Linked DNA regions of Homo sapiens: region 1 is linked to region 2. The links come from fine-mapping of genetic effects on gene expression. A gene starts in region 2. The other region holds a variant in brackets. All regions are shown on one strand. Distances are from middle to middle. Region 1 overlaps STAU2 (staufen double-stranded RNA binding protein 2). Region 2 holds the start of STAU2 (staufen double-stranded RNA binding protein 2).

Evidence for each region. PIP is the estimated chance that this variant, and not a neighbour inherited with it, causes the effect.
Region 1: its variant is the best candidate, but not a certain one, in a credible set for the expression of STAU2 in blood mononuclear cells (TOPMed, PIP 0.51).

What each region holds. Positions count from the first base shown.
Region 1 is chr8:73,556,780-73,572,725 of GRCh38, forward strand. The region is part of intron 12 of STAU2 (staufen double-stranded RNA binding protein 2); the gene reads right to left. Among named protein-coding and RNA genes, the nearest start is that of STAU2-AS1, 140 kb to the left of the region's middle. The variant C/T (reference allele first, on the strand shown) is at 8,655.
Region 2 is chr8:73,742,933-73,758,878 of GRCh38, forward strand. STAU2 (staufen double-stranded RNA binding protein 2) reads right to left here and starts at 3,908. Exons shown (of 15, transcript NM_001164380.2): 1 at 3,851-3,908. RefSeq lists silencers at 3,311-3,370, 3,481-3,660, 3,951-4,040, 4,121-4,410, 13,167-13,256.

The DNA of each region.
Region 1 (15,946 bases), 190 kb before region 2:
AAAGCAGGTCAGTGGTTGTCTGGGGAGTGGAGCTGGTGGGAGTGACAGATTGCAAAAGGGCATGAGAAATCTTTTGGTGAGATGAAAATGTCAAGACTGATTAAACTGTAGACATTATGTGCAGTTTATTATACTTCAATTATACCTCAATAAAGTTGTAAAAAAAAATTGCCAATTTGACAAATGGAGTGTCATATTACTGATTTTTGTTTTTTACTATCTGCATAAACATTATATATATTTTAGTTTAAAGAATAACTTAAATGTTATAATTCTAACTTCTATACTCAATTTAAAAAATCAAGAAACTTAACAGCATTACTTCAGTATTGTTATTATACAGGACTAATGGGTTTGCCAATAGCAATATTATAAAGCAACAAAAATGCTCTCCACACTCAAGAGAGGCATTACCTCACAGCATAAGAACGTGGAGTTCAGGCTCTCCTATTCTACAGTAAAGCCTAAGTGGACTTTTCTTCACAAATAAAGATTACTTTCTACAGAGTTCAACTAACAGACTAGTCATAGAAATAGCATAAAAACATAGATTTATGTGGTCAAGAACTGAATGACTTTTAACTTGAACATCAGTAACAGTATTTGGATGGGTGTTAATTCACTTAGGATCTTCCTGTTGTAAATTTAAGTCGCTTTTCAATAGTATAAAGATCTAAAAGTAGAATCAAAGAGTAATTTAGGGTATGCATATTTAAGGACCTTATTTTGCTAATTAGGTTTCTCCCAAAAAACTACCCCAGTTCATACTTCTATTAGTAGGATGTGACTGTTTTCCCACACTTCTCCCACAACACGTTTCAGTTACTCTAAATAATCATTGCCACTCTACAATAATTCATTGTTAATTTATTTTTGTTTGGTTACTGCTCAGGATAAACTTTTTCTCATGTAGCTACTTTAGGTCTGTGCCTTCTTTGACCTCAATTTTGCTCATGGACTTCAACCACTACACTTCCCTCGCTCAGGCTTGTAACATCCATTATATTCATTCACCCTTTATCTGAAGAGGTCCTGAACCCATTCTGCCATCATCTATCTTTTGTCCCTGGTTTTGCCTTTGATGCTCCCATCTTGGTACAGTCTATAACTACAGTACACAGTTACAATGCAGATACAACATGGGCACTGTTCTAGTACTTTACTTCTCATTTAATTCCCATAACAACCATATGAAATGGGCATTATTATTTTCCTATATTAGAGATGAAAAAAACTGAAGCATGGAGAAGATATGAAACTCTCCCAAGGTCATATGGATAATAAGCAGCAATGCTAGAATTTGACTCCAGGCAGTCTGCCTCTAGAGTTTGAATACTTAACCATTACCTTAAATAGCCTCCTAAAAGAACAGGTAGGAAACTAAATGCAACATCTCACCAGCTCCAAACCCCTAAGGCTTAAATCCAGTAAGTAAATGCCCGGGGTTTGCCCAGATTGGTTCCAAGGATGACCCATGTCATGATGGTTGTCCCTAGATGTTCCAGAGATGAGCTCACCAAAATCTCACTGAAGTATACAGAGTTTATACATGATTTTAAAGGTCTAAAGTTGCCAGGGACTGTGATATCTTAACACCAGGCTATTGTACCCACTTGACATGTTTTTGCTCAGTAGATCTGTGCTTCTTTCAGATGGGTATATGAATCCTCTGGCACACAAATCTTCCTGGAGCATCTTTATGGAGCTCCAGTTCTTACTGAAGAGTTGAAGAGGGACTTTTGAATTGGAGAGCTCTTAAAAGGTTTTATAAGCGAACTTAGGAGAACCTTGCCTTTCAATGATCACTGATGTCATGATTCTTTCAGAGATGCTGAAGAAGATAAGTGTTTGTGAGTAGCAAGTGGTATCAGAGGTATTAAAACACAGCAAGCCAGGCAGCAAGAAAGATAATGCCACTGATCCAAATGGTTACTGCCACTCCACTGGAACTCCCAGTTTCTCTGGAAGTCCTTGGAATGGGCATAGCTATTTCACAACAAATAATTTCTTTTCATTTTTCACAGAAAAGCTTTGAAAAAAAAAACTTTGTTTCCATTGCCAGCTTGAATTTACGCCTCAACAATGTTGGACTATAAATTTGTTTATAAATACCCAAATATCCAATAATACTCAGGCCCACTTTGCTACAGTGAGTTTTTCACAATAAAAAATTATAATTAAAAATTCTTAAGAACTAGAAACAGGGGCTTCTGGTTCAAAACAGGAAATGTGAGAAAATTATGAACAACAGCATGATTATCTGTCTCTAGTGATTTTTAAAAATCATTTATATGAGAACTGGTAGGCTCTAAGTAAGGTCTGTAGTCTAGTTCATTGTATTATGACAATTTCCTAGTTTTGAAAATGTACTATAGTTATATAAGACATCACCACTGGAAGAAGCTGAGTGACGGGTACATGCAACCTCTTTGTACCATTCTTATAACTTCTTGTGAGTCTATCATTATTACACTTTTAAAAGTTTTTTTGAAAGCACCGTTTTATGCTGCTTTGGGCCTCTCCCTCAACATAGAGACCCCAGAACAGGGTGGTGATGGGGACACCAAAGTGGGAAGGACTGGTGGCAGCACCATTCCTAGATATAGCTCTGAGGATAAGCAGGGCTGGCACTGGCAATGCCTGCTCCTTGACAACTTTGCTCACGGCCTTTGCCTAATGCACAGGCCCTGGCTCCCCAGGCTCTGGGTGCTTGACTTTTAGCTACATGAAAGCAAGGGAGATCCTGATGACAGTGTGGGCCTCATAGCCGGGACCTTGTTCTCTCCCAGGGTAGCCTGAGGCCACGTATTAGTTAAGAGTACATGTGACCCAAGGGAGCCTACTGGACCACCATGGTCATGTCCCTGAAGGTCAGGGACAGGTGGAATGCATCCTTGGCATGATCTTTAGCTACTAGACTGATGTGAGCTACAGAAATCCCCCTTCCTGCTGCCCTGTTGTTGGGATCAAATCGAACAGGTAGTATTTGTAAGTGACTCCACCTCTTCTTTTACACACAGCTCACTGCAAATCTGGTCTTCCAGATAAGGCCCTCAGACCCTTAGTTCTGCCTAATTTTTAAGCCAAATATATACTACTTATGAAATCAAAAATCAACAATGCAAAATATAAACTCTTGTGGAAAACTAAAAAGAGAAAATGTTAGCTAACAGCAAAACAATGAAAAAATAAAAAAATAGGTAAATAATTTGTTAGAGGTTTCTTCTTAAGATCAGTTTCAGAATCACCTTGGAAACGAAAAAGACACACTAAAAAAAGAGTCATTACTGAACAGATTTTTTTTTTTTTTTTTTTTTTTGAGACAGAGTCTCGCTCTGTCCCCCAGGCTGGAGTGCAGTGGCGCCATCTCGGCTCACTGCAAGCTCTGCCTCCCGGGTTCACGCCATTCTCCTGACTCAGCCTCCCGAGTAGCTGGGACTACAGGCTCCCACCACCATGCCTGGCTAATTTTTTATATTTTTAGTAGAGACGGGGTTTCACCGTGTCAGCCAGGATGTTCTCGATCTCCTGACCTCGTGATCCGCCCACCTCGGCCTCCCAAAGTGCTGGGATTACAGGCGTGAGCCACCACGCCTGGCCAAAATGATGTATTTTAATGTGCTCAAAAAGCATAACCTGAACAGTGGTGAAAATCAACCTTGCTCTTACCCTTAGAGTTGAACGGAAGCACTGATTTTATTAATTTGTGCATTTTATTGGTCCTTTTTTTCCTGCTACATTTAACATAATGATGTATGTGAAGGGTTCTTAATTTGGTGAATGTTTATGAATAAAATTACTGACAAAGAACTTTTCAGGAAGATGTTTGCCTTTTGGTGAACACAGTACCAACGGGAAAATGCACTTAGTCCAGTCTTGCCCCCAAAAAGGCAGAATCCCAGGTCATGACATAGCATCCAGCACACCTCCAAGAGGAAGAAGGAGGAATACAAAATAGTAAATAATACATATTCCTCAAAACACCAATAATGAACAGAAATAACAGCAATAAAGGTTTTTCAAAAATGTTTTAAAGATCAATTTATGATGAACTGGGAAATGCCTTTGGAAAGCTTGTACCTTAGTCAAATAAAAGTGCGAGTGAGTTTTCAAATTCAGGACTGGCTGCTATTTTTTCTTTAAAACAGGCAAATGGAAAGTATTTAATAACAAAGAATATAAACCTGGGTATGGTGAATAAATTCATCATTCATCTTTTTTTTTTAAACCTTACACAAATGCAGTAACTTATACTTTTGCCAGAAATTTTCTTTAACAAGAAGATTCTGGAGCCCAAAGTGAGTCATGCAAATCAAAGAACAGTCTGGCACAGGGGTTATTAATAGTGATCCAAGGGCCCCTAAATAGTTTGAAATAGGTTGACTTCACAACAAGGGCAGTGCACATTGTATATGACTCAGAGTCAGTGTGGTGCAGGGAAGTGATTGGGGAGTTCAGGAATTCCCCAGAAGCGCATTCACCACTCATCTTAATAATAAGGAAGATTTCACTTAGTTGGCTTATTTAGAAGAAATTTTTTTCAAGGCTCAGCTTTTCAATAAAGACACAACTGTGACTATTTCTACCAAGTAAGACAAAATAGTTGCTGTGAAAATGATGTTTGAGAGCACCTTGTGAGGATAATGAGTCATCTTCAATTTTTAGTTTATTTAAGTGGGGTTAAAATGTTGCTCGTAAAATAAAGATCGTTCTTCTTGGTTATGATTCTTCTCAGAAAAACTCCATTAGTTATGATTTCCCTACGACAGAAAAACACCAAAAAATGGATTATATAAGTCTGACATATGACAAAAGTGACCTGATCTCTCAGCAGGAAGAAACACATACTGAAATGTCTACCGCAGCAGCTTCCAAACACTGCACCACAATACTCCTCTGCCAGGATTCCTATTGCTTCCTAGTCAATACCTGCAAACGGCTCACAATACAATAATAGTACAATACAATAACAATAATAATTCTGGCTAAAACTCATAGAGTCCTTACTAGATATCAGGCTTGTTCCAAATGCTTTGCATATATTAGTTTAGTAATCCTCACAATGACCCTCAAGAAGTAGGGACTATGAATATTCCCATTTTACACTTGAAGGCCCTAAGACACAGGTGATATGACTGGCTTAAAGTCACAGCCAGTAAGTGGCAGGTGTTGGGGCAGTATCCAGGCATCTGGCTACAGTCAGCAAGTATAACTACCTTTCAGTAGTAAAACAAATAAACCAAGAACTACTGTTCTTATATCTATACATTTAAGAAGTTCTGGGCATTTAGATTCTTGAAATATTCTAACACCATGATAGAGACAAGAAACTGTCAAGATATTGAACTTCATTTCTTCATTTCAGACCTATTTTCTAGGCTCAATGAACCTCAGTCTCCCCTCTCATAGTAAAAGAAAAGATGGAGGTCAGTGCAGTGGCTCACACCTGTGATCCCAACACTTTGGGAGGCCAAGGCAGGAGGATCACTTGAGGCCACAAGTTCAAAACCAGCCTGGGCTATACAGCAAGGTGCTGTCTCCATAAAAAATTAAAACTTTAGCTGGGCATGGTGGCATGCACCTGTAGTCCCAGCTACTCAGGAGGCTGAGGTAGGAGGATCCCTTGAGCAGAGGAGTTCAAGGCTGCAGTGAGCTATAATGGCAACTCTGCACTCCAGCCTGGACACACTGTCTCTTTAAAAAAGATAGAGAGAGAGAGAGACTGAGATTTTTCTCACTGTAAAACCACCCATTGGGAAAAATGTAAAAATAATGCACTTGGCTATTTTCACAATTTTGTTTGTGGGAAGAAAATAAATTCAAATATTAGGTTCACACAAAGAAAAACTTAAGCACAGCCTTAGGATGAAAGAACTTAACCCACAAAACACTTTCTTACAATTCTCCTTATATGATCTAATTATGATTTAACAATTTACTACACATTAGTCTATTATTCAGTCTATTATATATTATTCAGAAACTTATGGAAGAATCCACAATATTATTAATAAAAACAACTAACTGGAACTGTATAAATATTAAGTACTGGGCTGGGTGCAGTGGCTCACACCTATAATCAGCACTTTGGAAGGCTAAGGCAAAAGGGCTGCTTGAGCTCAGGAGTTTAAGACCAGCCTGGGCAACACAGCAAAACCTCATCTCAAAAACTGTATTTTTAAAATAATATATATATATAAAGTACTTATCCAATTTTTAAATTTTCTTGTAAAAATAACAAATTCACTTTTTAGAACCAGGAAAGAAGCAGCCTAGCAAGAAATAAAATTTAGACAAAACACACCTTAGTCCAGCCAAATACACACAAAAAAACCTGTTCTCCCACTTTTATCTATGTATCAAAGGCAGAGAGGGACTTTCACCCTTGCAAAGCTGTAACAACTCTCCCCAACTTCCCTGATGTGGTAGTGTCAGAAAAAACTGAGTAGGCAGCTTGGACTTTCATCCTAGCCCCGTGGTGTCAGTGGAGATCATGTAGGGACACTAAACTTCTACCCCCACCTAGCAGTAATAGGATGCCCCCCACCTCCGTGCTGGAGTGGTGTCAGGAGAGAATAAAGGAGAATCAGAACTAGTGGGAACAAGGTCACCTCACTATGGTGTCAGTGGAGACCATATGGGGACCAGAATTTCCACTCAATCCAGGGCTGGGGGTAGGGGAAAGGGTATGGCTATAACAGCACAACATGAGGAACTCTCATGGTGACAGAACTGTTCTGTATCATATTTATATTAATACCTTAGTTGTGATATTGTACTATAGTTCTGCAAGGTGTTACCAGAGATAAACAAGGCAAAGGGTCCATAGGATCTCTTTGTATTAATTCTTACAACTGCATGTGCATCTACAATTTTCTCAAAATAAAATTTTTATTAATTATTTTAAAATTTATTGTAGAGACAGGATCTTGCTATGTTGCCCAGGCTGGTCTTAAGCTCCTGGCCTCCCACTTCAACCTCCCAAAGCATTGGGATTACATGCATGAGCTACCATGCCTGGCCATCAAAATAAAAAGTTTAATAAAAAAGAAGTCTTGGGTGACACCAGCAAGATGGTAGAACAGGAAGTCCCAGCCCTTATTCCTAACTCATACATTGATTTAACAATGATATACAGACCAAAATACCTTTTTGAGAATTCCAGAATCCAGTTAAGAAGTTGCAGTATCCCAGATGAGCACAAAGCCAAGAATGGCCACACTGAAACATGTAAGAACAATTTCACTTTACCCACACCACCCCCCTAAGTCAGCATAGCTTAGTGCCACATAGCTTAGTGCCGGGAGAGAGCATTCCAGATCACAACTTCTCCCTTGGGGTAAAGGTGAGTGGAATGTGCATCCAACATTTTACGTTTTCAGAGGGCTTCCCAAGGGACTAATTTTTGTCTTGCTTCACTTGGAGTGCCGACAGAGCCAGCATATTTTGGATACCTGGGATATTTAGTTTTCCCGGCACCATTTGTTGAAAATGTGGTACACATACAGCATGGAATACTATGCAGCCATAAAAAAGAATGAGATCATGTCCTTTGCAGGGACATGGATGGAGCTGGAGGCCATTTTCCTTAGCAAACTAACACAGGAACAGATATTAAATACTGCATGTTCTCACTTACAAGTAGGAGCTACATTATGAGACCACATGAACACATAGAGGGGAATAACACACACTGGAGCCTATCGAAGGGTGAAGGGTGGAGGGTGGAGGGTGGAAGGTGGAAGGAGGTAGAGGATCAGGAAAAATAACTAACAGGTACTAGGCTTCATATCTGGATGATGAAATAATCTGTATGACAAGCCCCCATGACACAGTTTACCTACATAACAAACCTGCATGTGTACCCCTGAACTTAAAAAATGAAAGTTAAAAAAAAAAGAAAATATACTCAGTGGGTCCTCAAATAATGTTGTTTTGTTCAACATCATTTTGTTATAATATTGATGAGAAAAAAAATCAAATCCCACCTGGGCCACTGTCTTATGTGGAGTTCTCATGTTCTGCCCATATCTGCACTGGTTTTCTCCAGGTCCTCCAGTTTCATCCCACATTTAAAAGATATGCATATTAGGTTCACTGGCAGGTCTAAGTTGTCCCAGTATGGGTGTCGTGTGTGTGTGTGTGCGCACACGCGTGTGCACATGTGTCCTGGAATGGAATGACATCCTGTCCAGAGTTGGTTCTTGCCTTTGCTCCCTAAGCTGCTAGGATAGGCTCTGACCAACCTCAATCCTGAACTGGAATAAGTGGGTTAGAAAATGAATGACTGAATGTATACAAATGAATGTAAAATTAAAATCTGTAAAATGCACAATAATCATATAATATGGTTTGGCTCTGAGTCTGCACCCAAATCTCATGTGGAATTGGAGTCCCAGTGTTGGAGGAGGGGCCTGGTGGGAGGTGATTGAATCATGGGGGCAGACTTCCCCCTTGCTGTTCTCCTGATAGAGTGTTCACAAGATTTGCCTGTTTGAAAGTGTGTAGCACCTCCCCTGCTTGCTCTCTCTCTCCTGCTGGCCATGTGAAGATGTGCTTGCTTCCCCTTTGCCATCTGCCATGACTGTAAGCTTCCTGAGGCCTTCCCAGAAGCAAAATCCTGAACAGCCTGCAGAACTATTATCCAATTAAAC[C/T]TCTTTTCTTTATAAATTACTCAGTCTCAGGTATCTCTTTACAGCCCTGCAAAAACAGACTAATACATTACACAAATGCACAACAATAAACAATGCAGTATAAAAGTGTTCAGTGAGCCCACCATATTTGTTATTGTTTGTTTTTTAATTGTGTGGTGGTAGGAAGTACTGCTTACAATTTTCACTTTGCAAACATTTATACTTTGATTTAACCCACCACCACCATGACTGCTATCACTCACTTATTCACCCCACATTGAGTAAACAATTATCTTGTTTTTATTAAACTTTCTTAATTGTACATGTAAGCTCATATTTATTTCAATGTTTAATATTACAATTTGGGTCTTTATTGAGAAGTCTGGTGATATTTCTCTAACCACAAATATGTTGTGAGAACTTAACTCTTGTTTATATCAATCAGCCTATGATAAAACTGATTTCGTTATATGTCATTTCACTTAAAGTAGTAGTTTCCAAGAACCTATCAATGATGTTAAGTAAGAACTTACTGGATTTAATTTTTTTAGTGGTAAAGCAAAAAAAAGAAGTCTAATGTTCTGTATTAACACAAAATGTAATAAAGTAAAAACAACAATAGTACATTGGTAAATGCACCAGACTGGAGCCCAGCTATCTGGGTTTGAGTTGAGGCAGCAGATATTCTCCTTATCATGCTTTCTTCATCTGTAAGATGAATTAGTCTTAAGGAACTTTTCATTTCTTTCAGCCCTAATAATCTATGAATCATCTTAACACAAACCAGAAAGCTTGGAATAAAAGAACACACTTGAATAACATCACCCAAAAAGCCTGTTGAGTGTTTTTTAAATTTGACTATTACTAAAGTTTTTTTAAATCTTAAGAAAAATCAAGTAATGTAGATGGCTGTGTCACTGATGTAATAATAGTTAAAACAAACATTTCACATAGTTTCTCAGCCATTTAGTGTTTTTACATGATCCACCCAAATATCAATCTGGTATCTGAAACAATAGTTTGAACATTTTCCATGTAATAAAACATCTTAAATGTTTTATAAAAAAAGATTCTGGTACATGATATATAAAACATTCTTTCAAAAAAATGCGTACTTAATTTTAATGGAATTTCTTAAAAACACTATTCTCTTTTTTTCCTTTAATTATCAGCAAATGATATATCTAGAAATAAAGGTGCTGTCTAGTGGCAACTGCAGAGACCCTGGAGTCAGAAGACATGAGTTCAAGTCTTCACTACCTTTAACTAAGAGTGTCTTTAGACCCGTTATAAAATCAACTGAGCCTCAATTTTCCTGTATGTAAAACATGTGAGGTTGGACATTCTCCAACCTTTTCACACTTAAGCCTCCTTATGTTGTTTTTCTTCTATGTATACCATGCTTAAAGGATCTGTCTTTCAGACAGACTGCATTTATTAAGTAATAATAAATCATCTTTCAAAGACTGCCAACCTGAGATTCAGAACATCTTGAGGTCTGAATTCAAATAAAATTCTAATCCAAAGCAAAGCAATCTACTAAGAGTAACTGTATTACTTCCATTAGGTTGCTGAAATACTAATTATGCCAACCATTATTATATTGAATCCAACAATACCACGCTGAGAATCTCAGGTCTGGATCACACCTAAATTCCTAGAATTCTAATTGTTATATGTTATAAACTACTCAAAAGATCATTAATACAGTGGGGAAAAAAGTGAAAATGCAATTCTTGCATTTGCTCAAATACTGAGCACCAACAATGCCAGACACTGTGCTATGTGATTTACTTTTTAAGATTAAAAAAAAGGCCGGGCGCAGTGGTTCACGCTTGTAATCCCAGCACCTTGGGAGGCCGAGGCGGGCAGATCACCTCAGGTTGGGAGTTTGAGACTAGCCTGACCAACATGGAGAAACTCCATCTCTACTAAAAATACAAAATTAGCCAGGTGTGGTGGCATATGCCTGTAATCCCAGCTACTCAGGAGGCTGAGGCAGAAGAATCACTTGAATCCGTGAGGTGGAGGTGGCAGTGAGCCAAGATTACACCACTGCACTCCAGCCTGGGCAACAAGAAAACGATTAAAAAACGATTAAAAAAATTGATTTTTTTTTCAAATAATATTTGTCTCTCTCTCTTTTTTTTTTTTAAGATGAAGTCTCACTCATTCTGTGGTCCAGGCTGCAGTGGCACAATCTGTGCTCACTGCAACCTCCACCTCCCAGGTTCAAGCAATTCTCCCACCTTGGCCTCCTGAGTAATTGGAATTATAGGCATGTGCCACACCATGCCTGGCAAATTTTTGTATTTTTAGCAGAGATGGAGTTTCACCGTGTTGGCCAGGCTGGTCTCAAACTCCTGACCTCAAGTGATCTACCCACCTCAGCCCCTGAAGTGCTGGGATTACAGGCATCCCACCTTTTCTTACTCGCTGGGGGGGAGGGGGGAGTTGGGCAGGATGGTGGTGTTTATCTTAAATATGGACTCGTCTTTCAATAAGCAATTTCATCTTTAAAAACTACTGAAATCATCAATAATACCAAAAAGGGTACATTATAATAAACAAATACTTTCTAAAAAAATGAAAGAATGAATGATGCATTAACATTATACAAAGAAGTTTTAGGGAAACTATCTGCACTGCCTTCCTGAACCTTAATAGTTTTCAACCATACAGTTAGTTCCCTGTTGCTTATTTTAGTGCTTCATAATTGATGCTTTGACTACTCTCACATCTCTTATTTCTGTTGCCAAGGAAGGAGATTTTTGTCTTTTCAATTACTTGTACTCCATGTAGTACGTGCAAGAAGATTACAGACCAAGTACATCTTTATTCACATTTGTTTAAAACACACATTACTTTAAACTGACTCATGTTAAAACACAAGAAAGACTCAATGATTAAGCTGGGTGCAGTGGCTCATGCCTATAATCCTAACACTTTGGGAAGCCAAGGCAGGATGACTTCAGGCCAGGAGTTTGAGACAAGCCTGGGCAACTCCACAAGACCTTGTCTCTAGTCGGGGGAGTGGGGGCAAAGCTGGGTGTGGTGCCACGTGCCTGTAAAATTAGCTACTTGAAAGGCTGAGGCAAGAGGATCCCTTGAGCCCAGGAGTTCAAGTCTGCAATGAGCTATGATCATGCCACTGCACAACTGACAGAATTTTGCTAACAGAGTGAGACCCTATCTCAAAAAAAAAAAGACAACGATTAAAACTGGCACATAGATAGTTAGATGAACAGAGGAGAACAGAAAGTCTGGAATAATACCAAATTCATAATCTTAGTATATGGTAACAGTGAACTCTCAATGCAGTGGGGAATAAAGTTGGGTCCATACTTTCAGTATAAGTAACAGATGGATCAAGACTTCAAGATTTCAAAAAATGAAACTATAAGAGTTCCAGAAGATAACTTAAAAGAAATGTTTTGATTGGAGGTTCCAAGATGGCCAGATAGGAACAGCTCCATGCTGCAGCTCCCAGTGTGAGCGATGCAGAAGACGGGTGATTTCTGCATTCCAACTGAGGTACCAGGTTCATCTCACTGGGGCTTGTCGGACAGTGGGTGCAGCACACGGAGCAGGGTGGGGCATCATCTCACCTGGGAAGCGCAAGGGGTCGGGGAATTCCCTTTCCTAGACAAGGGAAGCTGTGACAGATGGTACCTGGAAAATCAGGACACCGCCACCCTAATACTGCGCTTTTCCAACGGTCTTAGCAAACGGCACACCAAGAGATTATATCCTGCGCCTGGCTCAGAGGGTCCCATGCCTACAGAGCCTCGCTCACTGCTAGCACAGCAGTCTGAGATCAGACTGCAAAGTGGCAGTGAGGCTGGGGGAGGGCCGTCCGCCATTGCTGAGGCTTGAGTAGGTAAACAAAGCAGCCGGGAAGCTCGAACTGGGTGGAGCCCACCACAGCTCAAGGAGGCCTGCCCGCCTCTGTAGACTCCACCTCCGGGGGCAGGGCATAGCTGAACAAAAGTCAGCAGAAACTTCTGCAGACTTAAACGTCCCTGTCTGACAGCTTTGAAGAGAGTAGTGGTTCTCCCAGCATGGAGTCTGAGATCTGAGAACAGACAGACTGCCACCTCAAGTGGGTCCCTGACCCCCGAGAAGCCTAACTGGGAGACACCTTCCAGTAGGGGCTGACTGACACCTCATACAGCTGGGTGCCCCTCTGAGACGACGCTTCCACAGGAACGATCAGGCAGCAATATTTGTCATTCTGCAATATTTGCTGTTCTGCAGCCTCCACTGGTGATACCCAGGCAAACAGGATCTGGAGTGGACCTCCAGCAAACTCCAACAGACCTGCAGCTAAGGGTCCTGACTGTTGGAAGGAAAACTAACAAACAGAAAGGACATCCACACCAAAACCCCATCTGTACGTCACCATCATCAAAGACCAAAGGTAGATAAAACCACAAAGATGGGGAGAAACCAGAGCAGGAAAGCTGAAAATTCTAAAAATCAGAATGCCTCTTCTCCTCCAAAGGAATACAGCTCCTCGCCAGCAACGGAAAAAAGCTGGATGGAGAACGACTTCTACAAGTTGAGAGAAGAAGGCTTCAGATGATTGGTAACAACAAACTTCTCCAAGCTAAAGGAGGATGTTCAAACCCATTGCAAAGGAGCTAAAAACCTTGAAAAAAGATTCGACAAACGGCTAACTAGAATAAACAGTGTAGAGAAGACTTTAAATGACCTGATGGAGCTGAAAACCATGGCACAAGAACTACGTGACGCATGCACAAGCTTCAGTACTGATTTGATCAAGTGGAAGTAAGGGTATCAGTGATTAAAGATTAAACTAATGAAATAAAGCGAGAAGTTTAGAGAAAAAAAGAGTAAAAAGAAATGAACAAAGCCTCCAAGAAATATGGGACTATGTGAAAAGACCAAATCTACGTCTGATTGGTGTACCTGAAAGTGACGGGGGGAATGGAACCAAGTTGGAAAACACTCTGCAGGATATTATCCAGGAGAACTTCCCCAATCTAGAAAGCCTCCAAGAAATAGCAGACTATGTGAATAGACCAAATCTACGTCTGACTGGTGTACCTGAAAGTGACGGGAAGAACGGAACCAAGTTGGAAAACACTCTGCAGTATATTATCCCAGAGAACTTCCCCAACCTAGCAAGGCAGGCCAACATTCAAATTCAGGAAATACAGAGAACGCCACAAAGATGCTCCTCAAGAAGAGCAACCCCAAGACACGTAATTGTCAGATTCACCAAAGCTGAAATGAAGGAAAAAATTTTAAGGGCAGCCAGAGAGAAAGGTCATGTTACCCATAAAGGGAAGCCCATCAGACTAACAGCGGATCTCTCGGCAGAAACTCTACAAGCCAGAAGAGAGTGGGGGCCAATATTCACCATTCTTAAAGAAAAGAATTTTCAACCCAGAATTTCATATCTAGCCAAACTAAGCTTCATAAGTGAAGGAGAAATAAAATCCTTTACAGACAAGCAAATGCTGAGAGATTTTAGTAAATGGGCTAAATGCTCCAATTAAAAGACAGACTGGCAGTTTGGATAAAGAGTCAAGACCCATCAGTGTGCTGTATTCAGGAGACCCATCTCACATGCAGAGACACACATAGGCTCAAAATAAAGGGATGGAGGAAGATCTACCAAGCAAATGGGAAACAAAAAAAAGCAGGGGTTGCAATCCTAGTCTCTGACAAAACAGACTTTAAACCAACAAAGATCAAAAGAGACAAAGAAGGCCATTACATAATGGTAAAGGGATCAATTCAACAAGAAGAGCTAACTATCCTAAATATATATGCACCCAATACAGGAGCACCCAGATTCATAAAGCAAGACCTTAGAGACCTACAAAGAGACTTAGACTCCCACACAATAATAATGGGAGACTTTAAACACCCCACTGTCAACATTAGACAGATCAACGAGACAGAAAGTTAACACGGAAATCCAGGAATTGAATTCAGCTCTGCACCAAGTGGACCTAATAGACATCTACAGAACTCTCCACCCCAAATCAACAGAATATACATTCTTCTCAGCACCACATCGCACTTATTCCAAAATTGATCACAGAGTTGGAAGTAAAGCACTCCTCAGCAAATGTAAAAGAACAGAAATTATAACAAACTGTCTCTCAGACCACAGTGCAATCAAACTAGAACTCAGGATTAAGAAACTCACTCAAAACCACACAACTACATGGAAACTGAACAACCTGCTGCTGAATGACTACTGGGTACATAACGAAATGAAGGCAGAAATAAAGATGTTCTTTGAAACCAATGAGAACAAAGACACAACATACCAGAATCTCTGGGACATATTTAAAGCAGTGTATAGAGGGAAATTTATAGCACTAAATGCCCACAAGAGAAAGCAGGAAAGATCTAAAATTGACACCCTAACATCACAATTAAAAGAACTAGAGAAGCAAGAGCAAACACATTCAAAAGCTAGCAGAAGGCAAGAAATAACTAAGATCAGAGCAGAACTAAGGGAGATAGAGACACAAAAAACCCTTCAAAAAAAATCAATGAATCCAGGAAGCGGTTTTTTGAAAAGATCAACAAAATTGATAGACCGCTAGCAAGACTAATAAAGATGAAAAGACAGAAGAATCAAATAGACGCAATAAAAAATGATAAAGGGGATATCACCACCCATCCCACAGAAATACAAACTACCATCAGAGAATACTATAAACACCTCTACGCAAATAAACTAGAAAATCTAGAAGAAATGGATAGATTTCTGGACACATACACCCTCCTAAGACTAAACCAGGAAGAACTTGAATCCCTGAATAGACCAATAACAGGCTCTGAAATTGAGGCAATAATTAACAGCTACCAATCAAAAAAATTCCAGGACCAGATGGATTCACAGCTGAATTCTACCAGAGGTACAAAGAGAAGCTGATACCATTCCTTCTGAAACTATTCCAATCAATGGAAAAAGAGGGAATCCTCCCTAACTCATTTTTTGAGGCCAACATCATCCTGATACCAAAGCCTGGCAGAGATACAACAAAAAAAGAGAATTTTAGACCAGTATCCCTACTGAACATTGATGCAAAAATCCTCAATAAAATACTGGCAAACCGAATCCAGCAACACATCAAAAAGCTTATCCACCACGATCAAGTTGGCTTCATCCCTGGGATGCAAGGCTGGTTCAACAAATGCAAATCAATAAATGTAATCCAGCATATAAAGAGAACCAAAGACGAAAACCACGATTATCTCAATAGATGCAGAAAAGGCCTTTGACAAAATTCAACAGCCCTTCATGCTAAAAACTCTGAAAAAAC
Region 2 (15,946 bases):
GCACCCATCCTACAGTTGATAGGCAATTCTCACTTAAATGTCTTATTTGACAACATGAAAAGCAAAAAAAATTTACTATCTCTACTCTTAGACTACAAACTGCTACAAAACTATCAATTCAATGCTTATTACTCTAAAAAAGATATACGGTCCTTTAAAGAGCTTTTTAAAATGTTTTTCATTTTGATTTTTCAAAGTGGGTACCCAAAAACACTGCTTTTATGTAAGGAAAACAGAAGTCTTACGCCACAAACTATTCTAGTGGAAAACTCTAAATAACACAGGCCAGAAAAAAAAAAAAGGAAACTAACATTTTTCAGACACCAATTGTATACGCTAGGTGCCACATTTTGCCATTTTTACATCAACTCATTTAATCCTCATCATCTTGGGATGTAGGCATTATCTCCATTTTTCTAGAGGTTGGGTTATTTGCCTACAGTCACATTGCTAGGTTTAGAACGGTTCATTCTGGCCCAAAGTCGTCTTTTCTTCACTATACACCAAATTAAAAAAGACTTGCCTTCTTTTTAATTTTTTTTTTTTTTTTTTTTTTTGAGACGGAGTTCCACTCTTGCTGCCCAGGCTGGAGTGCAATGGGCACCATGTCGGCTCACCGCAAGATCCGCCTCCTGGTTTCAAATGATTCTCCTGCCTCAGCCTCCTGAGTAGCTGCGATTACAGGCATGCGCCACCACGGCCGGCTAATTTTACATTTTTAGTAGAGACGGGGTTTCTCCATGTTCGTCAGGCTGGTCTCGAACCCCCAACCCTCAGGTGATTCACCCACCTCGGCCTCCCAAAGTGCTGGGATTACAAGCATGAGCCACCATGCCCGGACATTTTTTTTTTTTTTTGAGACTGAGTCTCACTCTGTCACCCAGGCTGGAGTGCAATGGCGCCATCTCAGCTCACTGCAACCTCTGCCTCCCGGGTTCAAGCGATTCTCCTGCCTCAGCCTCCCGAGTAGCTGGGATTACAGGCGCGCACCACCACACCCAGCTAATTTTTGTATTTTTAGTAGAGACGGGGTTTCACCATGTTGGCCAGGCTGGTCTCGAACTCCTGACCTCCTGATCCACCTGCCTCGGCCTCCCAAAGTGCTGGGATTACAGGCATGAGCCACCCCACCTGGCCAATTTTTTTTATTTTCTATGATCAGCTTGGTGAAAAATAAAAGATTTGCCTTCTTATAATTTTTCCTGGAACAAAGTCAAGGGCTTGACCTCTAGGACAACATAATGGCAAAGCTCCTATATAGAACTTGGGGAGGATTATTTAAAATCAAACGATGCACACATAAATAAAAATGATAATTATTACTGATTCTAGACATCTAGTATTTTGTGTACCTATAAGAGGCACAAATATATCTATATGTGAATAATCATACTGTGCGTGTCTCAAACTATGCAGTCTAAGAGAATTCAATTTTGCAGTATCTAGAGTTTTCCCTCTTTATTATGATCTGTACCTATAAATGATCAGATTCCCAGCACTGAACGTGCACAAAACAAGATAATAATAGGAATAAAGAGAAGGGTAGGCACAAAGGAAAAAAAAAAAAAAACCTACCATATCTTCTAGAACCTAAACAGGAAAACCGCTCTGCCTCGATTTCTGGATTGTTTGTATATTTAAAAGCTTGATGACTATCTTAGATTTTTTTTATATTCATACTATTTGTTGAAAAGCAAACCAAGCCACTCTTCCTAGCACTTCATTCCAGACAAGCCAAGTAAGCTAAAATGTAAAATTTGCATGGTTTTCCAAGCTCAAGTATTTAGGAGTTAAGGATCACAATGTATGTAACTTACCCTTAAATGGTCCAGGGGAAAAATATTTTGTGTGTGATAGAGAGCAAATAATAAATACATAAAATGTTAACAGGTGAATCTGAATAAAGGTTACAAAGATTTTCTTTGTATTATTCTTATTCTTGCCATTTGTCTGTAAGCTTGAAATTATTTCCAAATAAAGTTAAAATTTAAAAATTACACAGCATTTTATTTGAAATTAACAATACATACTTGGATTACACAGCAACATTCTTACAAATACAAAACACTGGTTTTTATGGGGAAAAATGCAGTAATTTGTGAGCAAGTATGTACCATATCCTACCAACTTATCATCACTTAGGAATAAATTTCAGACTAGCCTACCATATAATAAAATATGGCAATAGTGACTTGACTTGAAACCATAGCAGGAAAACACAAACACACCAGATAGTTTGGCATAACTGCTTCGCAAATTTAATACAGGCCTGCTGCAAAATGCAGCAATCTACAATTAAAGTGTTATGTGATATCTCTTGTTTGCAGTAAGATACAAACTGAACAATGAAAATCTGGCCATACTACAAAACAGAGATGGAGAGTAAGTCTTGGTTTTGGTAGTTTTATTAAATAAGATTTTTCCACCGCAGCTGAGTTCACAACAGTGTACTTGAATCATCTAAAGAAAGCAAGGACGGGGAAGAAATATCCTGGAGAAATGTTGAAATCTTTTCTCCTCCAAGGTTACTATCACCCTGCCTGTCCATCACAATTTTGATTTCAAGTATTCACGATGCTGGTCTGAAACACAGGATGCATCAGAAGCCAAGTAATGCTCAGCAAAAGTTCACCAAAATTGTGAAAGCAAACATTAAATAAAAAACGTTTTCAATTAACAGTAAAATATCTTTAAAGGATCATCTCTAGCCTTTCTTTCTGCAGGATCCACCCACTTTAAAATCCTTTGGTAAATTCCCAGGTCTACCCTAATTGAATGGTCCCTCTCTATCTGCTCAAGCAGTTCTTAACCCTTTGGAGTGGGGATGGGGGTAAGGGGACATCACAGCAAATATGGACCCTTACCAAAGAAAATTATTCACAAATGCAAAATTCTACACACATTTCCAAAGACTTCCAGAATCCCACGGCCATTACCCCCACCGCCTCCCTAAGAATCCCAGAGTGGCGTGCTTCTCAATGGCCTCTGCGGAGCACCCCCAGCCCCCAAGCCACAGCCCCCGGCTCGACCCCGAAGAGACTAGAGTTCCTGCTCTCACACAGCGGATTCCGTAACTGAGCTTTGTCTCCTCGCCCAACTCCCTTCACCCCGGCAAGGTCACTACCGCCAACTACCCCTTTAAGCCGAGCCATCACGGTAGGAGTTCGTAACAGCCACAGCAGAACTTGCCTGTCATAGGATATATTTTGTCCCCTCGGCCCCACCTACCCTCCCCATTTCGGCAAGTTACGTCTTTACCACTAGCCCATTCTACAGAAATAGCTGCCGCCGCCACCCTCCGGCGCGCCCCGGCCCCGCCGCTCCGCCTCCAGCGCCCCCAGGCCCATTTCCCGCAGACCCTCCCCGGGCCGCCCTCCCCTGCCCTACTCTAGGCGCTCCCTCTCCCTCGCAGCCACACCGTGGCTGCACTCGCCGTCCTCTCTTCCGGCCGCTACCACCCCGGCCCCCTAGAACCCCAGCCTCCCGCGCCCGCAGCCGCGTTCCTGTCTCCCCGACCTCCGCACCCCCACTTGGCCCGGCCTCCTCGCCTTCCTCCCGGCTCCTCCCCTCAGGACACCTGTGTCGTCCCACCCCCTCCACCACACACGCACCCCCCACCCCAATTCCTTCGCCTCCCTGTCCTCCCTCCCCCGCCGGTCTCCCCTCCCCGCTGCTGCCCCGAGAGCCCGATGTGGGAGGGAAGGCGCGGGGGAGGGGAGGCCGCGAAGGGGGCTGCTTTTCTCCGGGTTCCCCGTGCTGCGGAACTGCAGGGCTCCCCAGCGCCCTCTGCCTTCTTCGCCGGCGGCGCGGAAGTCGGGGTCTCCCGGACGCCCCCGATGAGGGTATTTACCTTCTTGCCGGGGACACTTTGCAGACGGCTCCAACATTGGCAAACACTACAGAGAACTGACCCCGCTCGGCCGCCGCCGGCTTCCACCCCTCGGGCTCCCCGCCCCCCGCCTCCGCCCGCCTCCGCCCGCCTCCCCGGCGCTCCCGCCGCGCCCTCCCGCGCTCGCGCCGCGCGCCCCCGCCTGCGCAGCCGCTCCCGCGCCCCAGCACGCCCGGCCGGCGCGCGCGCCCGGCACCGGCTCTACCTCCACTCCGCCTCCCGCCGGCCCGCGACCAAGCGCGGCCATTGTTCGCGACGCAGCTCCCGCCCCCTGGCGGCTGCCGGGCCCCAGCAGCTGCAGGCTCTGCGGGGCTAGCGGCGGCGAGCTGGGCCCCTGGGCGAGGGCCATTCCCGGGGGGCTTGGGCACGCGGGCGAGCGACTGCGCAAGGAGCGCGCCCGGTCCGCAGTCTCCTCGTCCCCGGCGCGACTCCCCGCCCCCTCGTCTGCCAAGGGTGGGCCTGGGGCAGCCCCTTCCACACCTGCAACTCGGCAACTTCCTTCCCCGCCCGACTGACCGTCTGCTCTTTCTGGTCCGCACCCTGTGCTCTGATTCCCCGCTCGTACCTTTCCCAGGCTCTCCGGCTGCCCCTCTGTGCTGTGCAGGGGACGCGCGACCATCCCGCGTCTGCTCCGGCCGCCGCTGTGCAACGCACGGTTTAGCGGATCTTGCACCTTTCTAGACGGGGGAGGGGGCGGGGAGGAGGTTGCTTCACCGTCTCGCCCAGCAAACACCAGGGATCCGTGATCACCTGCTCGCCAAGACCCGCGGCGTGGCCAGACCTCCTCTTCTACCGAAAATATTAGTCACATGAAAAAGAATCCTTGGAGCCAAAAATGAGAACCATTGAAAACAATGCCCTGAATCCTAGATTTATGAGGCAAGAGTGCCAGAAAACAGAAATTACGTCTTAATTCGTCCTGGTTTTGATGTGGATTACTTTTGTCTAGATAACTTCAACCCAGTTAAGCTCAATGAAACTGAACACTTCGTTTAGTAACCGGCACCAAAAATAATCTGACAAAGAAATTTCGAAATAGAACTATTAGTGTGTTTTCACAAACTTACTCGTTTGCAACGTTATTTCTAGGGTTTCTTCCCAGTGTCACTTCTCTGACTGAGAAATGTCTCCCAGGCCGGTGATTTCAGTCATCATCTAAAACCAATCTCATGTCTGCACCTGGGAAGGTAGTGTGTGTCCTGGTTAACCGCAAGGGCGCCAGAGTCAGATAACCAAGGCTGGATATCCGCTTGCTAACTGGTGAGGAGACCACGGGCATGTTACTTATCCTGTGCATCAAGAGGAGACTACATGTGATAGATAGTTCGTATTTAAATGTGACAATACATATGAAGCCCTTTAAATAGGACCGGGTATGTAGTACCTCTCCTGGTACAATGTTAGCTACAGCTATATTTTTCCTCCCAGAACTCTTTCCTATGCTCCTTTCCCCCCTTTTCACCTCTGCCAGTTCCCTCGGATTTAACATGTTGCATCCTCCCTAAATTTGCTGTGCTCCTTCTAGCGGCTTACGCACCCAGTCAGCATTCTAATACAGTCATGCCTTACCTAGCCACAAGGATATGTTCTGAGGAACGTGTCATTAAGCGATTTTTGTTGTTTTGCGCACATCATAGCGTGTTCTTACGCAAACCTAGGTAGTCTAGCCAACTACTTGCTTTGGCTATATGGTATATAGCTATTGCGCCTAGGCTGCAAACCTGTACAGTGTGTTACTGTACTAATACTGTAGGCAATTTTGCAACACAAGGGTATTTGTACCTAAACAGAAAACCTACAGTAAAAGAACTATATAATCTTTTTTTTTTTTGAGACGAAGTCTCGCTCTGTCACCCAGGCTGAAATGCAGTAGCACAATCTCAGCTCACTGCAACCTCCACCTCCCGAGTTCAAGCAATTTTCCTGCCTCAGCCTCCCTGGTAGCTGGGATTACAGGCACATGCCACCACGTCCAGCTAATTTTTGTATTTTTAGTAGAGACGGGGTTTGACCATGTTGGCCACGCTGGTCTCGAACTCTTGACCTCAAGTGATTCCCCGCCGGCCCCCCCCCCCCCCGCCCCTCCCCACCACCTCGGCCTCCCAAAGTGCTGGGATTGCAGGCGCCCGGCTTAAAGAACTGTATAATCTTATGGGACCACCGTTGTATATGCAGTCCACCTGTCCATCATTGACTGAAAGAAGTTGACCAGAAATTGTTGAATATTTTGAATGAATACCTTACTTTCCCACCAGCCATACCAAGGGTCAAGCTGCCTACCTCTGTGTCTTTCCATAGGCTATTCTCTCTCCCTTCAGGCTACCCTTCTCTCGCCTGGTGAACAAATAATCTTTCACGGCATTCAAAAATCACCTTCTTGGCCGGGTGTGGTGGCTCACACCTGTAACCTCAGCACTTCGGGAGGCCGAAGCGGGCAGACCACGAGGTCACGAGTTTGAGACCAGCCTGGCCAACATGGTGAAACTCCATCTCTACTAAAAATACAAAAATTAGCTGGGCGTGGTGGCACACACCTGTAATCCCAGCTACTTGGGAGGCTGAGGCAGGAGAATTGCTTGAACTCGGGAGGCAGAGGTTGCAGTGAGCTGAGTTCGAGCCACTGCACTCTAGCCTGGGCAGCAGAGCAAGACTCCATCTCAAGAAAAAAAAGAAAAAAAATCACCTCCTTGAGAGGCATTCTCTAACACTCCTCTGAGCAGGCGAGTGCTCTTCTCTTGTACCTCTCTTCTCTGATATTGTAGGTATGTTAGAATTTTTTTTTTTAGCCTGTCTGTATCTACCAAACATTGCATTGTTGAAGGGCAGGCTCTGTGTCTCATGCATATCTGTAGTCCCAGCATCCAACAGCAAGTAGGTGGACGGTAAATCCTTTGGTATAAATGGATGAGTTTATACTTTTGGAAAGAACTCTGGGGTGGTCAGATTTCATTCTCTTTGATTCAGATCCTTAAAGTTAATTGAAAACTTTATCCCTCCCGTAACTGTTCCTCATAACTGATTTTCAGTCATTGGTAAACCCCAAATAGAATGAATTTTTCTAAGTCACAATTATCAGAAAGGAAATTGTTTTTTAATTGAATCAGCACTTTCAGTTGCTCAAGGTATATAGTATCAGTACATGAAATCACCTGAGTGACATGGAAATCCACACATCACTCTACAATCATTTTAGGATTTACTTTAAAATAAAATATTTGTATAGGAGTTGAAAATAATGAATATTTAAAGAGCGGTGGGCCAGCCGGCTGTGGTGGCTCACGTCTATAATCCCAGCACTTTGGGAGGCTAGCGTATCACCTGAAGTCAGGAGTTCGAGACCAGCCTGGGCAAAATGGCAAAAACCCCATCTCTACTAAAATTAGAAAAACTACCTGGGCGTGGTGGTGCGTGCTTGTAGTCCCAGCTACTCAGGAGGCTGAGGTGGGAGGATCACTTGAGCCTGGGAGGCAGAGGTTGGAGTGAGCTGAGATCACACTACTGCACTCCAGCCAGGGCCACAAAGAAAGACCCTGTATCAAAAAATATAAATAAATAAAGAACAGTGGGCCTATTAATAGGCAGCTGATTAAAGCAAATGAGGCCAGGCGCAGTGGCTCATGCCTGTAATCCCAGCACTTTGAAAAGCCAAAGAGGGAGGATCTCTTGAAACCAGGGGTTTGAAACCAGCGTGGGCAGTAAAGTGAGACCCCACCTCCATTTAATTAAAAATAAATTTAAAATTAAATTTTTTTTTAAAAAGCGTCTGTTTTATCAACACATTTTTACCAGTCACCATTGCAGTGAAATGTTCAAGCATCAGGAAAAAGATAATGCTTTCAAATTCACCATTATCGGATTTGAGCAGTTTGAATGGGACAGATTCCAGAATCACAAACTCCAGTTTCCTTCTATGTCCTCTTCTTTCTTATATTATATCTTATATTATGATGCCCTTTTCTTGACATTTATTTTCCTGTAAAATTCATCTAGCCCCCAGCACCCACCATAGAAGTTACCCTCCTTTATTGATGATATCTGAATTTTTTTAAATTCTTTTTTTGAGACAGAGTTCTTGCTCTCGCCCAGGTTAGAGTACAGTGGTACAATCTTGGTTCACTGCAACCTCTGCCTGCAGGGTGCAAGCGATTCTCATGCCTCAGCCTTCTGAGTAGCTGGGATTACAGGCATGTGCCATCAGGCTTGGCTAATTTTTGTATTTTTGGTAGAGACAGTTTGTTTTGCCATGTTGCCCAGACTGGTCTTGAACTCCGGGCCTCAAGTTATCTGCCCTCCTCGGCCTCCCAAAGTGCTGGCATTACAGGAATGAGCCACTGCATGGCCCTGAATTTATTTTTATCACTACACACTATTTATGTGTTTCTTCTACTATATCTTAAGCTCCTTGAAGGCAACAACAATGACTTTCTCTTCTTTGTTTCTCTGGGACTTAGCACAGTGCTCACTAAATGCTTGTCAAATGAAGGGATTAGCAAATTTGACCAACATTTACTGAATACCCACTATGGGCCAAGTACTATTCTTGGCCTAGGGATGTGTAGCAACGAAAAAAATCTGCAAAATCTTTGTCCTCATGGAACTTACAGGGGAATGAATGAATAACAAATGCATGAAATAAGCACTTCCAAACACTGTACTTTATTAGAATAGCATTCTGAGGCCGGGCGCGGTGGCTCACGCCTGTAATCCCAGCACTTTAGGAGGCCGAGGCAGGCAGATCATGAGGTCAAGAGATCGAGACTGTCCTGGCCAACATGGTGAAACCCTGTCTCTACCAAAAATACAAAAAAATTAGCCAGGCGTGGTGGCACACGCCTGTAGTCCCAGCTACTTGGGAGGTTGAGGCAAGAGAATCGCTTGAACCCGTGAGGCGGAGTTTGCAGTGAGCTGAGATAGCTCCACTGCACTCCAGCCTGGGCAACAGAGTGAGACTTCGTCTCAAATAAAAAAAAAACATTTTGAAAATTCCCAATATATTTATGTGTTCAGTAATAAAAGTATTGCTTGAAACTCAACTTGTTTTCATAATAATGTCAAAATAATTATTAAGGTATTAGCCACCTAAAACGCTGCTAAAAAACAGTAGAAATATATTTTACAAAGTGGGCTAGGTGCTGTGGCTTGTGCCTGTGACCCCAGCATTTTGAGAGACAGAGGCAGGAGGATCGCTTGAGGCCAGGAGTTCAAGACCAGCCTGGACAACATGGCCAAATCCTGTCTCTACAAAAAATAAAAAATTAGCCGAGTGTGGTGGTGCATTTCTGTAGTCCCTGCTACTTGGGAGGCTGAGGTGGGAGGACCACTTGAGCCCTGGAGCTCAAGGCTGCAGTGAGCCATGATCACACCACTGCACTCTAGCCTGGGCAACAGAGAGAGAACCTGTCTCAAAAGAAAAAAAAAGGTAATCAATTATATATAAGAAACAAGCAGGTATATGAAAAAATGCTCAAAATTACTAATCATCTGGAAAATGCAAATCAAAACCACAATGAGCTATCATCTTACCCCAGTTAGAATGACTGTTATCAAAAAGACAAAAGATAAATGCTGGCCAAGATGCAGAGAAAAGGAAACTCTTGTACACTGACAGTGGGAATGTAAATTAGTACAGCCGTTATGAAAAACTGTATGGAAGTTTCTCAAACAACTAAAAATAGAACTGCCATACAACCCAGCAACCACTACTGCATATTTATCCAAAGAAAAGAAAATCAGTATAGCGAAGAGATATCTGTACCCCCATGTTCATTGCAGCACTATTCATAATAGCCAAGATATGGAATCAACCTAAGTGTTCATCAGTGGATGAACCGACAAATAAATGGGTATAATGGAATATTATTCAGCCTTATAAAAAGAGATCCTACCCATTAAGACAAAATATATGAATCAAGGATATTATGCTAAGTGAAATAAGCCAGACACAGAAAGACAAATATCACATGTTCTCACTCATATGTGAGAGCTAAAAAAGCTGATCTCATGGAGATAAAGAGTAGAATGATGGTTACCAGAGGCTGGGAAGGGTGAGTGGGGGAAATGAAGAGGGATTGGTTAATGGGTACAAACATACAGTTAGATAGAATGAATAAGTTCTAGTGTTCAATAGCACAGTGGGGTGGCTATAGTTAAAAATAATTTATTATACATTTTAAAATAGCTAGCAGAGAAGATCTGAAATGTTCTCAATACAAAGAAATGATAAATGTCTGAGGTAATGGATATCCCAATTACCATGATTGATCACTATACATTGTATGTATGTATCGAAATATTACATGTACTCCATATACATGTACAGATACCATGTATCAATTAAAAAAGAAAACTCTCAACTAATAAGAAAAAAAATAAGGAAACAAAAATATACTTAATGAAGTATGGAAAGATTCTTTTTTAAGTCTTTTTTTTTATCCCCCTGAGACAGGGTCTTGCTCTGTTGCCCAGACTGGAGTCCAGTGGCACAATCATGGCTCACTGCAGTATTGACCTCCTAGGCTCAGGTGATCCTCCCTCCCCAACCTCCCAAGTAGCTGGGACTACAGGCACGTGCCACCATGCCTGGCTAATTTTTTTAATTTTTAGTAGAGACGAGGTCTCACTAAGTTGCCCAGGCTAGTCTTGAAATCCCAAGCTCAAGTGGTCCTCCTGTCTTGACCTCCCAAAGTGTGAGCCACAGTGCCTGTCCTCTTTTAAGTCTTATGGCACATGGTGTTAAATAATTTTTTTTGAATACAAATAATAGGAACTGGGTGTGGTGGCTCATATCCGTAATCCCAGCACTTTGGGAGGCCAAGGTAGGGGGATCACTTGAGGCCAGGAGTTCAAAACCAGCCTGGTCAACATAATGAGACCCTGTCTCTACAAAAAACAAAAAGTTTTTAATTATCTGGGCATGGTGGCATGCACCTGCAGTCCCAGCTACTCAGGAGGCTGAGGTGGGAGGATCACTTGAGCCTGGGATGTCAAGGCTGCAGTGAACTGTGATGGTACCACTGCACTCCAGCCTGGGTGATAGAGCGAGACTCTGTCTCTAAAGAATAAAATTAAATTAAAAATATATACAAAGAATAAAAAGAAAAATTTGCCGAGCATGATGGTGCACACCTGTAGTTCCAGCTACTCGGGCTGAGGTGGGAGGGTCTCTTGAGCCCAGGAGTTGAAGGCTGCAGTGAGTCATGATCATGCCACTGCGCTCCAGCCTCAGAGTAAGGCCCTATCTCAAAAAAATAAATAAGTAAATAATAGGGACCCAATTATGCTTGTAATGACTTTTCTTTTTTCTCTATAACTATCATCTTGTCTCTGAATTTTTTTTTCTTGGGGATATTCGCATTTTCCACCATGCCAGAAATTTGGTTGTCAGCCAGTCTATCTAGTATTTTGATTCTAATTTTTTCCTTAAATTTGTAATGGCATCATTTAAGTCTTGATTTCATTCTTAATTAAAATACAAGACAAGATAGCTTTACAGTCTGCCCTTTCAACTCAATCTGTGTTTTATCATCTGTAAGTTGAAGGTTTTTTAACAGAATATACAGATTCTACAAACCTTGGCATGTCCTTGTCAGGTAGCCCGTTTGAAGAGACGTCAGCTGCCACGTCAATGAGTCAGGGCTTTCATGACTAAGTCATCCTGGGACCCCATGGAGAGCTCTAGTGGGGAGGAGAGTGAGGACTGGGACAAGCCCATAGAGGTTCCCATCCTCTCTGTGCATCCAGTGGTCACCAACAAGATAAAAGTGAACCAATTGCAGCCACAGTGGGGAGCCCCCAAGAATTGCCCCCACCTGAAAGACTGCAGCACACCACGATGTGGGATTACACTACTGTAGAATTGGTGGAGCTGGGAAATAGGTTCAGACACAAGGGGAGCATCAATAGCGGGGTGGCTGCTCCATCTAGGAGTTGTGGAGATGGAGGAAGCTATTATACTCCCAAGACTCAGGATGAGTAAAATGGCATCCATTAGAAAACCCATCAGAAAAATATGTTACATTTTTCTGTAGTGCAAAGCCTTCATAGAAATAGTCTTCTGTTCCATGAGGTATTTTTCTTCTAACTTGAGTTCTTCCTTTATCTTTTGAATACAGTGTTCCATTTATTTGTTTATTTAGCTATAATAGTGGCATAATTTTTTTATTTTTATTTTTATTTTGAGATGGAGTCTTGCTGTGTCACCCAGGCTGGAGTGCAGTGGCGCCATCTCGGCTCACTGCAAGCTCCGCCTCCCAGGTTCACGCCATTCTCCTGCCTCAGCCTCCCTAGTAGCTGGGACTACAGGCACCTGCCACCACGCCCGGCTAATTTTTTTGTATTTTTAGTTTCACAGTGTTAGCCAGGAAGGTCTCGATCTCCTGACCTTGTAATCCGCCCGAATAATGGCATAATTTTAACATAATTTATTCTTATTTTGTTCATATTTAATCTGGGAAACTGTACCCAGATCCTCTATTAGCTTAGCTTTGCCCAGTCTAATGGGCTTCTGGAGAAAATAAGATTTTATTTCATTAGTTTTTAGGAGTGGGAAAGGTTCTAGAACCTGGTTTTATTCCACCCTGTTTACCTTAAATATCGAATACTTTTCTTTGAACTATACAAATATATTATATATGTAACAAAACCTAGAAGTGTAACTTGTTAGTTATTATTTGAATGTCCTTGCAGTGGAAATAAATTTGTGACATCTCTGCACACAAGAGAAGGAGGAGGGGGCTAGGGGAGAAGGGAAAGATGGCAAGTATTGCTTTTTAAACAAGTACAATGACTTCTTTAAACACTTCTTAATTGTGACTGTTTTGACAGACATCATCTTAGCAATCACTTCATCTTTCCTTTCCAATAACTTTTCCAAAAGACTTCATTATAAACTTCATAAAACATTGTTTTTCTCTTGCCAATTATAAAGGAGGAAAAAAACTAAAAATTTCAGCTATGTATACCTGTATTGAAGAGGAACAATTCCAGAATTCCAGGAACTGAGGATAAAGGGGCAGACAAGTAGATTGGCCACACACAATGCAGTGATACAGAGAAACTACAGACAATATCTGAACAATTTTCTGTAGTCTCTCTGTATCACTGCCATTGTGTGTGGCCAATCTATTAATATTTATCTGTCCCTTCATCCCAAGTTCCTGGAATTGTTGCTTCTCATTCTTTCTTTTCTTGGCTAATTGTCAATAGCATTCTGAATTTGAGACATATTGCAGTGTAATATGGCACCCCAAAATGTAGCAGCTTCAAGCAACAATTTATTTAGTTCAGGCAGGGCTCAGTATCCTGTCTCTGCCCCATGCAGTATCAGCTAAGGGCACCTCAAAGGCTGGGAGCCCAAATCATGTAAGGACTCACTCATCTATAGTTGATGATGGTTTTCCACTGGGACCGCAGCTGGGGCTGTCAACCAGAACACCCACATGTGGCTTTTCTATGTACCTGCAGATGTTGCTGGGGTAGGGCTGAGAGAGGAAGGAACAAACCCTGAGTTTGGCCCCCTCACAGCATGGTGGCTGGGTTCCAAGAAACCAGAAGTAAAAGTCACTACTTTCTTAAAGCGTGGCCCAGAATTCAAATATGCTTTGAATTCTGCCCATATTCTACTGGTCAAATCACACAGTCCAGATTCAAGGGGAGGGCACCTGATCCTTTCTTTCCGTGGAAGGCACGTCAGAGGATCTTAGAATCACATTTAAAACTCCACACATTTTCCTGTAATCCCAGCACCTTGGGAGGCCAAGGCAGGCGGATCATTTGAGGTCAGGAGTTCGTGACCAGCCTGGCCCACATGGTGAAACCCCATCTCTACTAATAACACAAAAATTAGCTGGCCGTGGTAGCAGACGCCTGTAATCCCAGCTACTCAGGAGGCTGAGGCAGAAGAATCGCTTGAATCCGGGAGGCAGAGGTTGCAGTGCACGGAGATCATGCCACAGCATGCCAGCCTGGGTGACAGAGTGAAACTGTGTCTGAAAAACAAAAACAAAAAACAAAAACAAAAAAAACAAAAAATACCTCCACACATTCTCTGAAACATATCACCTTGTCTTTTCACCATATTGCTCCTATGTTAATATAAAGGTGACATAGAAAATTTCCTTCCATTGGTACCTACGCTTTTCTGCATGAATCATCTCAGCTGGCTTAATTCATTTAACACCTTTCTTGTGCTGAAGACAGATAGGCACACCTGCACTGCAGAGATTACAAACACCAGATTGAAGTGGAACAGGCCTTACTAGTCTTTTCTAGTCTATTCTCCTTCCCAGGTCAAGGGGGATGCTTTAGGCAAGTTAAAACAGTCAGTAGTTGCGGTAGCAGCCGAGATGAAGGAGTAAGTTGGAAGCTGGAGGAAACTCCCAGGCAGTAACATGCAATATGTAACATTTAGTCATGGCCTGTTTCTGGGACATGCTGTAGCTGGAAGTGGGCCATGATCTCAGTGGGGAAATGGCCTAGGGAGGGACCAACGGAAGGCTGTCTGACAAGGTCGGGCCAGGCTACTAGTGTCAGAGTGCTCAGTACCCAGAGCAGGGTTTGTTCCTTCCTCTCCCAGCCCTACCCCAGCATCATCTGCAGGCCTGAGCCCTTCATTCATTTTCTCATTGAACAAACATGCCTGCCAGTGGCAGTGCAGCCTGCTGGTGTGTTCAGATATTGTCTCTAGTCTCTCTGTATCACTGCCACTGTGTGTAGCCAATCTACTTGTCTGCCCCGTCATCAAAGTTCCTGGAATTGTTGCTTTCTGCATCCTGTTGACTGCTCTCCAACACACACACACACACACAAACACACACACACACACACACACACCACATACCATTTCTTTTTTCCTTTTTTTTTTTTTTTTTTTTTTTTTTGAGACAGAGTCTTGCTCTGTCACCCAGGCTGGAGTGCAGTGGTGCAATCTCGGCTCACTGCAACCTACACCTCCCAGGTTCAAGCAGTTCTCCTCTCTCTGCCTCCCAAGTAGCTGGGATTACAGGTGCCCGCCACCACACCCAGCTAATTTTTGTATTTTTAGTAGAGACTGGGTTTCACCATGTTGGCCAGGCTGGTCTCGAACTCCTGACCTCGTGATCCACCCACCTCAGCCTCCCAAAGTGCTGAGATTACAGGAGTGAGCCACTGTGCCCGGCCTCTCTTTTTTCCTTTTCAACTTTTATTTTAGAATCGGGGGTATACATACAGGTCTGTTACAAAGGTATATCACACACACACACCATTTTTAAATATCTAATATACAACTTTCTCCTATCTAGGACCTGCTGGCCTCTATGCCTAGGGCTGAACCCAGCCTACTCTCTTCCTCTCCTCTAAGGATATCATCACTTCAGTGTTGTCCCAGACATCCGTGAACAATAAAACCACGGCTACCTCAAGTCTTGTATGTTGACCCACTCTTTTCCTTTCCTCCTCTACTCCAGCTTTAACCACCAACCTTTGCTTAGTTTGAATTGAGTTTATGATACCTTCTCAGAGTTGTTCTAACCTTTTGGGGACCTCTGCTCCTAGCTCCCTAATTTGCTTGGAACTGCACTAAGAAGTATACCCTTGACTTTTCCAAAGTCACTCTGGCCAGATCACCACTATGTTATACAGTGTGTTTGTGAAAATTTTTTTAAAAGTACCTCTCTAGGTAGTCACAGATCTTTAGGTACAAGTGTTGCTGAGTAAGCCTCACCTTTGTGCCTAGAGAAAAGGAGTGAGCAGAACATGCACAGTCTACGGTATTTTGTTTTGTTTTGAGACAGGGTCTTGCTCTGTTGCCCAGACTGGAATGCAGTTGCACGAACACAGCTCAATGCAGCCTCAACCTCCTGGGCTCAAGCAGTCCTCCCACCTCAGCCTCCCGCATAGCTGGGACCACAGGTGCATGCCACCACACCCAGCTAATTTTTTTTTTTTTTTTTTTTTTTTAGTTGAGGCAGGGTCTTGTCATCTTGCCCGGGCTGGTCTTAAACTCTTGAGCTCAAGTGATCTACCCACCTCAGCCACTCAAAGTGCTGGAATCACAGGCATGAGCCACTGTGCCCAGCC